Homo sapiens: one gene and its partners. The protein of the gene in region 2 purifies or fractionates together with the protein of the main gene of each other region. This does not show direct contact. Each region holds a gene or a part of one and is shown on either strand. Other genes may lie near its edges.

Region 1 (3,500 bases), on a different chromosome or scaffold from region 2:
AGAGAAGGGCGGTGGCATGGAGGGGATGCAATCTGAGGCCAGGGATCCTCGGCCTCAGCTCTACTGACCGGTGCTGAACCCTGGGCCCTGAGGGGTGCTCAGCAGCAACCCTGGCCCCCACCCACTCCATCTCAGGAGCACCCCCCCGAATTGTGACCACCACAGATGTCCCCAGACAGTGCCAGTGTCCCATGGGTCAAGACTGCCCCCAGATGAGACTCTATGTCTAACAAAATGCTATTACAAAAGATGGCTGCTCCGTGTTTGTTTGGAAGGGTGTTTCACCTGGAAACAGCAAACACTCACACACACTGAAAGCCACACCTGACACGAGACCAGCACACACTGCAAGCCTGCACCCCAGCACAGGCCCCATGCTGCAGGCAGGAGGCGAGGAGGGCCCTGCACTCGGGTCAGAAGGCGCCGCCCCTTGGTAACTTTGCACCCAAGACACAAGGTCCCTCAGGCCATAAACATCTCAACTATGAAACAGAAAAGCAAGCCTCAGCTCTCAGCGAGGATGCCGGGAAGACCAAGACGGCCGAGAAGGAGTCTGAAACGCCACAGGTCACTGCCCAGATGAGAACTGGCTCGGTACTACTGTTTGGGGTTGTGTTTTGTTTTTTCAGATGGAGTCTTGCTCTGTTGCCCAGGCTGGAGTGCAGTGGCGCAATCTTGGCTCACTGCAAGCTCCGCCTCCCGGGCCCAAGTGTTTCTCCTGCCTCAGCCTCCCAAGTAGCTAGGACTACAGGCATGCGCCACCACGCCTGGCTAATTTTGTATTTTTAGTAGAGATGGTGTTTCTCCATGTTGGTTAGGCTGGTGTCAAATTCCTCACCTCAGGTGATCTACCTGCCTCAGCTTCCCAAAGCGCTGGGATTACAGGCGTGAGCCACCGCGCCCGGCCTGTTTTGCGTTTTGTAAGGAAGGCAAAAATGACAACCACAGCCCTGGCTCGCCAAGGACCCCCATGGAGCTCTGCAGAGGCAATATGGATACACTGATGGGGGAGGGAGGTGGCTCACACCTATGCACCCAGGCATGCACACATACATATGCATTAACGTGCATATATGCACACAATGCACACGTGCACACCCACACATACATGTATGCATGCATGTACATCAGCACACACGTGCATGGTGCACGCACACATGCATGTACATGTACACACACATGCAGCCCGTACACAGCTGGGTGGCTGGCATGTTAACCCATGTGCACCACTCCCGCTGGGTGAAGCCACTCGTGTCTCCCACATAACCCACCAAAGCCAGGAGAGGTTGCAGAGGGAGGCAGGAGCCCAGCAGGAGTTCTGGGCCACCGGAAGCCAAGCCAGGCCCAGGTGGCCCCGGGCCTCTGGTGGCCCTGAGGTGCTGGCCACTGTTAAGCCCTGCCGTACAGAGGCCAAGGGCGAGGCTCTGGACAGCACTCAAGCCAGGCAACGTGACTACATTTGGGTTTTCAAGATGCTTTGGTCCCAGCCTGCTTTTCAAATCGCCCTGTCTCCCCGCGCCAACTCAGCTGCTGCCGCCTCCCGTCACACAGCGTCTTGGAGCTGGGACGCAGGGGTCCACACACAGTGGACCCAATGTCTGAATGCCTGGGTCCTGCCTGAGACCTCACACCCCGCGGCTGGGGCTCAACATCCAGGGCCCTGGTCAGCAGAGACTCGCTCCCACCCGACCGGCAGCCATGTGGCCCCAAAGCCACAGCCCCAACTCGGGCCTCAGCCCACATGGCTCCACCCTGACCCAGCCTGCCCCACCTGCAGCCACACTCCACCTGAAAGACATCTGAGCTGGAACGCTCTTTTGGCTCCAAAATCTTCAACAGCTGCCCACTGGAAAGAAATGCCAGCCCACTCCTCCTGAGACAATGTGTGAGCCCCTCCGAGATGCCGCCTCACTCTGGACTCGTCCACAGCCCCTTGCCGGCCCTCATCTCCCGGTCTCAGGCCACTGCAGGGCACCTGCCAGGACAGAGCCTTCTGTCCACTCCTCACCGCACACCAAGCACCACGGCAGCTTTACTCGTAAAAGCCAAAAAGCCAAAGCTCCAGAGACCCTTCAGCAGGTGCACGGGTGCAAAGACCCCACGCACAGACCGCTGCTCGGCGCTGGGCAGGAATGGACCACTGACCACACCGCCACCCCAAGGGCAACGCACCAAGTGGTCCCACCCATAGCAATGAATGTCTGTGATCCCCCCAAATTCCTATGTTAAAATTCTCACCCCTAAGACAGTGGTGTTGGGAGGCGGGATCAGCTTCTTCCGCCACGGAGCTCTTGGGGGGCTCTTTCATGAGGGCACTGATGGTTCCAGGAGGGATCCCGTCCGCATGAGGACACAGCAAGAAGGCACCGCTGTCTATGAACCAGGAAACACAACCACCCCCTACACCAAATCCACAGCGCCGCTGTCTATGTACCAGGAAGCACAACCCCCCCTTCCCCCCAACCCCCCAAATCCACAGAACCTTGATCTTGGACGTCCAGCCTCCAGAACCATGAGACAAACTCGGGTAGTTTACAAGCCACTGTGCCTGCAGTATTGTCACAGCAGCCCGAGCTGACTGAGACGGTGACAAAATGTTAGGAAAAGAGAACACTGCAGGAAGCCAGGGATCCAGCCAGGGGTCCGGCCATGAAAGGGCAGCTGGGAGGGTCCTGCAGGACAGATGCTGCCTGGCCCCTGCCTGTGGCAGGGGAGCACGCACTCCACGGGTGACGAGTCAAACCCAACTTCACATGCACCCCTCCCACCCTCCCTCCCTGCCACGAGGCCACACCCACCACCGGTCCCGCTGTGAGACCCCCAGGTTCCTGCCTCAGACTGGGTCTGGAGCTGGTGAGCTCAGCCTCCCAGGAGGCCGTCGTGGGCACTGGCAGCTGTGTGCGACCCTTGCTTCAGCACCAGAGTTAAATATAAACTACCCCTTCCATCAGGTCCTTCCCCTTCCCAAACGCCCGGAGAACCCCCACTGCAGAAATCCAAGAGCCCGGCGTTCAGGAAGCGCCCAGCACCCCCACAGCACAGGCCCTTTGAGGGTGGCTCTGCCATTCCCTCCTCAGTGAGGTGTGGCAGTGCCCGTCTGCAGCCTGCCTCGCCAGCTTCCTGAGCGCAGGGGCTGTGGCTGCCCTGCCCACCTGCATCCCTAGCCCCTATGCAGAAGGCGCTGTGTACATGTTTCCTGAGCGAACCAAATGAACCTGGCCCTGGTCCACAGTGCTGGATCCCTCATGTCCCCATTGGGTCCCCCGCACTCCAGTGCCCGTCAGGATGGACCTGACTGCATGTCACCAGCCATGGCTCCTGGGAGAATGGGGCCCACATCTCCCACACCTGAGGGAGCCCCCCACACAACCACAAGCAAGGTGCTTTGCCTGTGCAAGCATGGTTCCTGGTGGGCCTGCCACAGGCCGCCCCACAGTGGACCCCAGACGCTAGGGAGCCTGCAGGAGGTACATCCTCAGGTACACTCAGCACGCCACCAC
Region 2 (3,500 bases):
CATGCTTTGATTGAAGAGTGATTGCAAATGGGTCCAGTTTTCTTCCACCTGGGATGACAAATTTGTTATTTCTTCTAGGAGTACTGGCTCTGAAGGAAGCATTTTAAGGTGTAACTGCAAAGAAAAATATGATGATTGAACATTTAAGAAAATTAAAATTTTACCTAATCTGGATTCAATTTTTCTACCAAGGAACCACAAAAGACACTAGGTGAATATTTGTTTTCTTAAGCGCTGGTTTATTACTATCTCCCATTTTCCCCTCCTCTATCAAACTTTTTTTATTATAAGGTCCTTTATGATACTGTGACTTCCTTGGTAGAATTAAAGTGGTCATCACTCCTCTCCACCTAAGGACAGTCCTGATACTTTTAAATAATCAGATCAAGTGAACTCATTTTAGGTATAAATGGGATAAAGAATCAAATCTATTATCACCAAAAATCGGCATCATCTACCTCCTTCAACACATTATACCACTAAAGTAGACCCTCAAAACATGAGTTCACCACTATATTAATCATAAAAGTAACAGTCTTATTGTCAAATGATCAAAACTCCTTTAATAATGATAGAAGTGAACATTTTGATTTCAGTAGTAGAAAAAAAAACAAACAAACCCAACTTTCTATTCATAATCACAAAAAACTTCCAAAATGTAACTAACCACTAAAAAAAGAAAAGTTAATGGTTCAGCACATTGGATCAAGCAGATAGCATAAAAATGTCAGGGGGTAAAGTCAAAATTATTGTGCAGTTGAGTAAAAAAACAAAACAAGACTCCCAAGCTGCACTGTCTAGCTGTCCAATGTGGTAGTCACTAGCCACATGCGGTTATTTAAATTTAAATTAATTAAAATTCTATAAAATTAAAAATCCAGTTTCTTGATCACACTATTTACATTTCAAGAACTCAATAGCTACATGTGGCAAGTGGCTATGATACTGGAAAGGATGGATATACAGCATACCCATCTTTGCAGAAAGTTCTGTTAGATAGCACTGCCCCAGAAGAAGACAAGCTGGGCAGTACTGTCTTACATTAGACTTACCTTTAGAAACAATGCAAGGTATGCCTGGGCTAACTCAAAATCACGCTTTCTGTCCAGCATCATCCCAATCATTTTCAAGAAGCTCTGCATAACTTCTATGGACCCACCACAATCAGGAGACAAGCTTCGCAGCTCTGTTTCAATTCCTGATGGGCCTGATTCTTTCAGAAGGTTGAGAGCAGTGTCATCTGCATTAAATTTTAATCCAGTTATGACTTGATTATAATCATTTAACTTAGAAAATTACAGTTTTCCTTTTATACCCCAAATAGGATATATTTAAATGGTACAGGAAATTCTTCCTGTGGGTTAATTTTTTCATATTATGTAGTAGAATGAAACCCAAAATAATTGAAAATCAGTACAAACGATGACACCAATATAAGAGAAAGTACTCAAAACACATTTTTTTTCTGTAATTTAAACCTTTTTCCTGTTAATAAAGAAAATCTAATGCCTTGCAACAGGCACGTTAGAATTTTAAAATGCTCATATATCTTCTCTCAGAGTAAATCCTAATTAAGAAGCCTATAACGATACATACAAAAGTATTAATAGTGGTTAGCATTGGGAATCTGATGAGGTAAAATAATTTTTCTTTTCTATTGTTATAAAGTTATAAAAGTACATAATCATTAGGAACTATATTACTAACAGTACAGAATATATAAAATCAGAGGGGGAAGACCCCATCCCTTATTCTTACCCAGCCCAAACCTACTTCTTTTCCCTAGAAGAATTGTTTCATATGCACCCTAGGAAAACACACTCAGTACACTTACAGCTATTTTTATGAGTCATTTGAGAACTGCAATGACTATGCTTTAGCTTTCTGAAAAAGAGTATCACCAATGACAAAAGTCTAATCACTTTTAGATCCTTCAGTATATAGTAAACAATAGTGTTTTTATTTCTTTGTCTCCCCATAAACATAACAAGTCATTTACAAGGGCTCATCAGTATCATTCTCTGACTTTTGCTAATGTGGACTCAAGTAATCTCGGTATGAAAACAAAAGCATTTGAATCAAAACAAGAGGACAAGTTAAAATTATTAGGAGAGTGACTACAGTTTTTTAAATGATTACAGTTCTTATGGCTAATCACTATTAGCTACAGACTGTAGCCTTCGAAATTTAAATATATGAACACAACAGACAGATTAAAACATTTCCTTTTTAATAAAATAATTTAGGAATATATGAAATCACCTAAGCAGTCCGCTGAATTACAAATTATAAATAAAAACAAAAGACTTGCAAATTACTTGCTACAAAAACGACAAACAAAACTTTTACATTTAATTCACAACAAGAAGGATCTCCTTATTATAAATATAGTCAATAACTGTGTCCATCTCCAATAGCAAAAAGTAAGTTAGATATATGAAAAATCTTCAACAGATTTTTATAATATCAATACCATTTGAGTTTAGTGGGCTTATTTAATATAAATGCTAAAATTACGTCAAATTAAAACCAAAATTTCAATCTTTTTGATTTTTACTATCTTAACTACTGAGAACGCTGATATTTCCTTCAATTTCTCCTCATATACAGTAAAATAAGCTAAATATATTAGTTAAAATATCTTATAATTCAACTTACACTTATTATTTACCAGTCCTTCTTCAAGTTTCAAGCAGAAATCTGATTTTTGAGCCAAAACTCCAAGATTTACCACTTTAGACTTAAACAAAAACAAATACACATTATTCAAATAATTCAAGTATCACCCAAAAATGTATAGTTTGTAATTAAAAGCTATCATTAATTTACCCTATATCTGTAAAACTAGGTCTTGGTAAAGAAGTGCAGAAAACACATACAAACATACACCGATATACTTAGAATCTTCTAATTTGTTTTTTACCTGCTGGGGATCATTATTTTGTTCAGGTGCAGCATATCTGGGTACAAGGCCAGGAATTGTTGGAATGAAAAATGGTGCTGATTTGGGTACTTTGGGTGGTTCCTTTGGTTTATTCTTTTTCTGATTAAGAGAAAATGAGAAAGAAAAATAGGAATTATCTTGCCAACAGTTTCTCATATTTAATTTCAAATCAATTTTAAAACAAATACCAAAAAGTAAAAGAGGAATGAAACTCTTTCACATAAGAATGTTAAAATATGATCTCTTCTGACCAATACCACAGCTATCCTTAACTTGGGCTTCCCAATGCAGATCTCTAGCACCCTTGCCGATAAGGCAGAAAAAAAGTGACAGGGCACAGGGGAAGTTCTAAGACAAACACAGCTCATTTTCCTGAAATATGAATATATTTACATGAAGATATAACAATTAAGTAATTTTAAACTTCCTTTTGTATTGAGTACAAACTCTTTCACAAAACAGGATGGAAAGCAAAATTTACATAAATGCTTAATACAAAAGAGTTTCTTAAATTACTTTTCTCCAAAGGAACTTTGGAGCCAGAAGCAGACTGACA
Region 3 (4,030 bases), on a different chromosome or scaffold from region 2:
AGGGGGGCCAGGTAAAGTTTGCCACGGATGTCCAGCTGGAGGGAAAAAAATACACACAAGTGGAGCTTGGCCTCCACCCCAGCTGCTGAGGCCCTGGAGCCTCCCTTCTACCCACAGTCTAGGACACACTTGGCCCAAATGGTCTGGCTCCTTTGCTGGGCCTCTGCATGTGCCAATCAATCCCTTCATCAGGAATGTTCCTTTCCTCATCGTCTCCTCCACTGGAGAGCTTCTACTTAACCATCCAAACCCAGTCCCAATGCCCCCTCTTCCAGGAAGCCTCCCACATTTGTCCCCCGCTGCCCGACCCTGACCCTCTGAGACTTAGAGTGTGTCCAGCTCTTTTTTTTTTTTTTTTTTTGAGATAGAGTCTTGCTCTGTTGCCCAGGCTGGAGTGCGGTGGCACAATCTTGGCTCACTGCAACATCCGCCTCCTGGGTTCAAGTGATTCTCCTGCCTCAGCCTCCTGAGTGGCTGGAATTACAGGTGCCCGCCACCAGGCCCGGCTAATTTTTGTATTTTTAGTAGAGATAGGGTTTCACCATGATGGCTAGGCTGGTTTTGAACTCCCGACTTCAAATGATCTGCCTGCCTCAGCCTCCCAAAGTGCTGGGATTACAGGCGTGAGCCACCGCCCCCGGCCCTGTCCAGCTCTTTCTGTCCCCACCTCCTGAGGGCTGGGCCCAGGACAGAGCACAGAGAGGGAGACTCAGCCAGGAGCTCCCTCAAGGCACACAGCCTCTGACTCCCAGGCAGCTAGAACAGGAACGTGGACACAGCTGGTATTTAATAGACGCACACCAGATGGACAGATCTGCTACTGACGTTGTCCTCAACACGTACCCGCTTCTTCTCACAGGGCCGCAGCCTGACCACGTCCTCATCCGTCAGGGGCCCGCAGGTCCGCACGGGGCTGCTGGGAGGGGTGCTAGTGCCCGGCCCTGCGGGGACCTGCTGGGCACCACAGTTTTCCTGCCTGGGAGCGCCCTCGGCTGCCGTGCCCTCGGGGACAGCGGCAGCGGGTGTGGGGCCCTGGCTGAACCGGCGCAGGGCCTGCTCAGCTCGCTCGAAGCGGACCTCGCGCTTCCGCAGCTGCTGCTGCAGGGCTTTGTCCAGGCCGTTGCGGATGGACGGGGGCTGGGTCCCGCGGGCCGCCAACTCCTCCTGCACCAGGTTCTGTCCCTCGGGCCTCAGGTGGGCCCCAGCGAAGCGGCAGGTCACGCCGTAGGGGCACCGGCCGAAGGTCTCGAAGAGCACGCAGCGGGGGCCCAGGTCGGCCGGCTTGGTCTCCAGGTAGCGCCCCACGTCGTGCAGAAAGCGGCAGCGATCACCGAAGAAACACTTAGCAGCCGACTCCTGCGAGGAAACAGGGAAGCAGTGAGGGAGGACAGGGAGACCCCGGGGCAGCCCAGCAGCCAGGGTTCAAACTCTAGATCACCCCTCCTGGCTCTTGTGTCCCTGAGCAAGTCAGGCACCTCACCGTGCCTCTGCATCTCCATTTATACAATGAGAACAATGACAAGCCCTACAATGTATCCCGAGGAGAATGAAGACGGAATGGCATCAGAGCAAGCTCACTGCTCGTTGCTGAAGGCCCAGGAGCTTTCTAACAATTACCCGCTGCCAGGAAACACACCCTGCTCCTGCCTGCCCCGGCAGGAATGCTCACGTGGCCGCACTTGCCTGGATTAGGGAGGGACACAGCCTGTTCTTGTCGTAGTTCGTGGGCTTCACATGGGGCCGGCCCTTGTTTTGTCCCCGGGCCCTCTTCTGAGTCTGTAGCTGCTCCCCGGGCTCTGCTGCCTCCTCCGTCTGCCCGTCCGCCGTCTGTCCATCCTCCAGTCGGATCCGCTTAGCCTCAGGCTCAGCCAGCTCATTGCCAGCAGGGTCTCCTACCTCGGTTTCCCGGCAAGTCTTCTCCTGCCCTTTGGCTTCCAGGAATTGGTGAAACTGCTCCTTGGTGGTGAGGTATCTGCCGACAGAAAGGGAAAGGAAAACCCTCCGAACATAGTCAATAAACACTGGGGAAAGGAGGCTAGAAACACTTGCACGTCCTTAAATCCTTCTGCTGATGGGGAGCTCACTACTTAAGAACCAGCCAGCTCCCAGCCTGGGAGCCCCTCACGGCCTCAAAAAAGACCTATTTTGTCCCTGGGTCCTCACTGTCCAAAGTGTTGCGCGAAACTATTATCAGGTTCAGTCAAGAACGTCCCTGCGCACGTTAGGCTGCGAAAAACTACAATTCCCAGCATGCCTTGAAGCGGAGTCTAAGCCACCACATTTCCCAGCACGCCTTTCGGCCCTTCAAACACCGCAGGCCCCAGCACGCCCCGCGGCACTCGCTTCAACCCCAAGACCCGCCAGTAACGGCCGCTGGCAGAGCACATGCGCCGTACGTCCATATGCAGGGACTACAATCCCCAGTATGCAGCGCGGGCCTGGCCTCAAATCCCACCTGCCCTAGCATGCACGTGGTGTCCTTCGCGCATGTGACAGGCCCCAACGTGCACGATCTCAGGTACCTCCGCTGACCACCCTGCAGGCGGAAGAACGGCCCGGAATGAAGAGCCGGTGGCTTCTCGCCCTCAGCCGCTGCCTAATCTCCCGGCATGCACAGCTCGGACCGCGCTATGGGTGCCGGAAAAGGCCCTTCAGCTTCCCTCCTGCCCCGGCGACTCACTGACGCTTAATGGGCGCCACTCCTCGTTCCAAAGCTCCGGCTCCCGAGTCGCCACCACCACCATTCTCTAGAGGAGCCTCCGCCGTTCCCTCCGCCATCGGCGCCCCTCACATCCGCTCTGGAGTGTGGCGGGAAGACCTTCCGGGTCACGCGTGTCTTCCCTGATTGTGCTGGGGAAGTGCGCATGCTCATGTCGTTCCAATGACGCCATTGCTCGCTCGTGACGCCACGGGGGCGGTGCCTGCACATGGGTGGAGCCTCAGGTCCTATATAAACTAGAGCCTGGCCAATTGCGAACTGGACTGCAATCAGCTTCTGGACTGAGGAAATTTAACTGTTAGGGTGTTTTGGAGGTTTTTGTCTTTGTTGTTCTGTTGAAACGGTTTCGTTCTGTCGCCCAGGCTGGAGTGCAGCGGTACGATCACGACTCACCGCAGCCTCGTCCTGGGCTCAAGCTATCCTCCCACCTCAGCCTCCCAAGTAGCTGCGTCTACAGACATGCACCAATAGGCCTGGATAATTTTTAAATTTTTTGTAGAGACGAGGTCTTGCCAGGTTGCCCAGGCTGATCTTGAACTCTTGGGCTCAAGCGATTCTCCCACTTTGGCCTCCCAAGCATTGGGATTACAGGCGTGAGCCATGGTTCCCGGCCCCTGCTAGGGTTTTTAAAAATGTAAATTAGGGGTCGGGAGCGGTGGCTCACGCCTGTAATCCCAGCACTTTGGGAAGCCGAAGCGGGCGGATCACTTGAGGTCAGCAGTTTGAGACCAGCCTGGCCAACATGGTGAAACCCCGTCTCCACTAAAAATATAAAAAATTAGCTGGGCGTTGTGGCACATACCTGTAATCCCAGCTACTTGGGAGGCTGAGGCAGGAGAATCGCTTGAACCCGGGAGGTGGAGGTTGCAGTGAGCTGAGATCACGCCATTGCACTCCAGCCTGAGGGACAGAGCGAGACTGTCTCTAAATAAATAAATAAATAAGGCCGGGTGTGGTGGCTCACGCCTGTAATCCCAGCACTTTGGGAGGCCGAGGTGGGCACGTCAGGAGTTCGAGACCAGCCTGGCCAACATGGCGAAACCCCGTCTCTACTAAAAATACAAAAATTAGCCAGGCATGGTGATGGGCGCCTGTAATCCCAGCTACTCAGGAGGCTGACGCAGGAGAATCGCTTGAACCTGGGAGGCGGAGGTTACGGTGAGCCGAGATCGGCCGTTTCACTCCAGCCTGGGCGACAGAGCAAGACTCCATCTCAAAAAAAAAAAAAAAAAGTAAATTACACTACTTTTATGCAGGACATTAGTTTCAACAAATAATTAGTTGAGCATCTGTATGCCAGATGCTGTGCTA
Region 4 (3,500 bases), on a different chromosome or scaffold from region 2:
GGCATGAGCCATCATGCCTGGCCAAATTTTTGTATTTTTAGTAGGGACAGAGTTTCACTATGTTGGCCAGGCTGGTCTTGAGCTCCTGACCTCAAGCGATCTGACTGCCTCAGCCTCCCAAAGTGCTGAGATTACAGGCATGATCCACTGCTCCTGGCCGTGCCTGGCTTTCTAACTTGGTCTTTCAGGCGTGAGCCACTGTGCCCAGCCTAGATGATTCATCTTCTGTCGGAAGAAACATATCAAACCGTTTTGTCTCTTAGACTGGAGGCTCTATGGGTGGTAGGGAATGCATCTGATTTGTTCACTATTGAATCTAGCACATATAGTGTGCAATAAAAATGCTTGCTGAATGTACTGATTATATACTGTCATTTAATTTTTCACAAATTTGTACAATTGGATTGTTTTTAGGTTTTTTCTCTTTTTCAAATAATGTAGGTATAAGCATTTTGAACAGGTAAAATTTCCTTTCATTCATGTATTTTTTGGACCATATTTGTTAATGTAGAAGTCCCAAATTGAAGCGTTGAGCACTTTCATGACTCTTGCTACAAACTGTCAAATTGAATTTCAGAAAAATTTGCTTTAGTTTATGTTATGTCCAACTCTGTTTGAATATACCTGTTTCCTTGACACTCCACAAATACTGATTTTGTGGATTGATTTTTGTTTATTGATTTTTAAAATTTTTTTGGAGACAGAGTCTTGCTCTGTCACCCAGCCTGGAGTGTAGTGGCATGATCTTGGCCCACTGCAACTTCCTCCTCCCAGGTTTAAGTGATTCTCCCAACTCATCCTCCCGAGTAGCTGGGATTACAGGCGTGCACCAACACACCTAGCTAATTTTTGTATTTTTAGTAGAAACAAGGTTTCACCATGTTGGCTAAGCTGGTCTTGAGCTCTTGACCTCAGGTGATCTGCCTGCCTTGGCCTCCCAAAGTGCTGGGATTACAGGCGTGAGCCACTGAGCGCAGCCTATTTGTTAATTTTCATCCTCTGTTTGGTGAGCATGTGTTCTGGCATAGTGAACTGTTTTGTTTTTATTTATTTATTATTTTTTTGAGACGGAGTTTCGCTCTTGTTGCCCAGGCTGGAGTGCAATGGCATGATCTTGGCTCACCTCAACCTCCGCCTCCTGGGTTCAAGCAATTCTCCTGACTCAGCCTCCCGAGTAGCCGGAATTACAAGCATGCACCACCACGCCTGGCTAATTTTGTATTTTTAGTAGTGACAGGGTTTCTCCATGTTGGTCAGGCTGGTCTTGAACTCCCGACCTTAGGTGATCTGCCTGCCTCAGCCTCCCAAAGTGCTGGGATTACAGGCGTGAGCCACCATGCCTGGCTGTGAACTGTTTTATTAAAAACTTATATGCTGGGCATGGTGGCTCACGCCTGTAATCCCAGCACTTTGGGAGGCCGAGGTGGGTGGATCATCTGAGGTCAGGAGTTTAAGACCAGCCTGGCCAACATGGTGAAACCCCATTTCTACTAAAATACAAAAAATTAACCAGGCGTGGCGATGGGCGCCTGTCGTCCCAGCTACTCGGGAGGCTGAGGGAGGAGAATTGCTTGAACCCAGGAGTTGGAGGTTGCAGTGAGCCGAGATCATTGCGCCACTGTACTCCAGGCTGGGTTACAGAGCAAAACTCTGTCTCCAAAAAAAAGAAAAAGAAAAACAAAAAAACCTAACTTACAGTCTAAATTCTTTAGGTTCTCTGGTTTTTACGTCTTCCCTGTTTTTGGATAACCCTCATGGGTAGGAGCAGTGAAAATAGGAGAAATTCTAAATTGTTCACTTCGTGCCTGTTTAACAGCCATGGAAAATTTGTTTTGATACCTATAAGTTATCACATAGCTCATTTCTTTTCTTTTTTTTTTTTTTTTTTGAGATAGAGTTGCTCTGTCGCCGAGGTTGGAGTGCAGTGGTGTGATCTCAGCTCACTGCAATCTCCACCTCCTGGATTCAAGCGATTCTTCTGCCTCAGCCTTCCGAGTAGCTGGGATTACAGATGCATACCACCACACCCAGCTAATTTTTGTGTTTTTAGTAGAGACGGGGTTTCACCATGTTGGCCGGGATGGTCTTGATCTCCTGAGCTCGTGATGTGCCCGCCTGGGCCTCCCAAAGTGCTGGGGTTACAGGTGTGAGCCACCACACCTGGCCTCTTTTTTATTTTAAATTGTAGTGGAAAGGTTGGTGAAATTCTTGCCTCAAATGAGGCATAGGTTTACATTTACATAGATTGTTTGGGTTTCAGTAATTAATTTTCCAGTCATCCTTCATCTTGTCTAGAGTGTTTCGTTGCTGTGTTATAACTTCCTGAGGGAAGCTCTGGAAGTGGCAGTAGCTGGAACTGAATTGTTTAGAGACTCTGGGACAATGTGGCAGCTGAAGCTGCAGGTGCTGATCGAGTCAAAGAGCCCTGACATAGCCATGCTTTTTGAAGAAGCCTTTGTGCACCTGAAACCCCAGGTCAGTGAGCTGGATCTTTTGTATTCATTATATTTGGGAAACCTTTTAAGACTAGCCAAGGCTCATTTGGAATGTACTTGTCTATTGAGAGCCAACTCTAGAGTGGCATTTGCTATTCAGTGGTGATGGTTCATAGGTTAAGAGTAGAAGAATTTGCTTCTATTTAATATCCTTTATTTGAAAGTTAACCAAATTAAATAAAACTTCCTATTCTATTTAGATATCTTATAAAGTTAGAAATACCAGTAGAATATTAATGTCACTTGCTGAATATAAGCCCAACCTTTTTTTTTTTTTTTTTTAAGATGGAGTCTCGCTCTGTTGTCCAGGCTGGAGTGCAGTGGCGTGATCTCAGCTCACTGCAATCTCTGCCTCCCGGGTTCAGGCAATTCTCCTGCCTCAGCCTCCCGAGTAGCTGGGACTACAGGCGCATGCCATCACACCTGACTAATATTTTCTATTTTAGTAGAGACAGGATATCTCCATGTTGGCCAGGCTGGTCTGGAACTCCTAGCCTCAAGTGATCTGCCCGCCTTGGCCTCCCAAAGTGCTGAGATTACAGGCGTGAGCCACGGTGTATGGCCAGATTCACTTTGCAGTGAATTTTTTATATTAGTAGGTAAAACGTATTCCAGAAGATAAAGTAGGAAAAAAACTACTGCTCATTTGGTGGTTTTTCCTTTTTTTTGAGATGAAGTCTTGTTCTGTTGCCCAGGCTGGAGTGCAGTGGTGCAAACTTGGCTCACTGCAACCTCCACCTCCCAGGTTCAAGCGATTCTCCTGTCTCAGCCTCCCAAGTAGCTGGGATAAGAAGTGCCCACCACCATGCCCAGCTAATTTTTGTATTTTTAGTAGAGACAGGGTTTTGCCATGTTGGCCAGGCTGGTCTTGAACTCCTGGCCTCAAGTGATCCGCCTGCCTCCGTCTTTAAAGTGCTGGGATTGCAAATGTGCGCCACCATGCCTCGCTTTTGCTGCTCATTTGTACGTACCTCTGGGACATGAATGAAGATCAGATAGTTCAGC

The links. The genes of interacting proteins can lie anywhere in the genome.
Region 1: the proteins of WDR36 (region 2) and GNA11 purify together in Homo sapiens (affinity purification with mass spectrometry; one large-scale study listed by BioGRID and IntAct). This does not show direct contact.
Region 3: the proteins of WDR36 (region 2) and DUS3L fractionate together in Homo sapiens (co-fractionation; one large-scale study listed by BioGRID). This does not show direct contact.
Region 4: the proteins of WDR36 (region 2) and UTP6 purify together in Homo sapiens (affinity purification with western blotting, with the first as the bait; one study listed by BioGRID). This does not show direct contact.

What each region holds. Positions count from the first base shown.
Region 1 is NC_000019.10:3,104,362-3,107,861, reverse strand, and holds part of GNA11 (guanine nucleotide-binding protein subunit alpha-11), read right to left. Parts: intron 1-3,500. UniProt on the Homo sapiens protein: Guanine nucleotide-binding proteins (G proteins) function as transducers downstream of G protein-coupled receptors (GPCRs) in numerous signaling cascades.
Region 2 is NC_000005.10:111,123,348-111,126,847, reverse strand, and holds part of WDR36 (WD repeat-containing protein 36), read right to left. Parts: intron 3,044-3,500; coding exon 2,924-3,043; intron 2,741-2,923; coding exon 2,659-2,740; intron 1,241-2,658; coding exon 1,053-1,240; intron 115-1,052; coding exon 1-114. UniProt on the Homo sapiens protein: Part of the small subunit (SSU) processome, first precursor of the small eukaryotic ribosomal subunit.
Region 3 is NC_000019.10:5,788,364-5,792,393, forward strand, and holds the start of DUS3L (tRNA-dihydrouridine(47) synthase [NAD(P)(+)]-like), read right to left. Parts: upstream 2,801-4,030; 5' UTR 2,779-2,800; coding exon 2,681-2,778; intron 1,973-2,680; coding exon 1,684-1,972; intron 1,357-1,683; coding exon 844-1,356; intron 36-843; coding exon 1-35. UniProt on the Homo sapiens protein: Catalyzes the synthesis of dihydrouridine, a modified base, in various RNAs, such as tRNAs, mRNAs and some long non-coding RNAs (lncRNAs). Mainly modifies the uridine in position 47 (U47) in the D-loop of most cytoplasmic tRNAs.
Region 4 is NC_000017.11:31,874,209-31,877,708, reverse strand, and holds part of UTP6 (U3 small nucleolar RNA-associated protein 6 homolog), read left to right. Parts: intron 1-2,295; coding exon 2,296-2,475; intron 2,476-3,500. UniProt on the Homo sapiens protein: Part of the small subunit (SSU) processome, first precursor of the small eukaryotic ribosomal subunit.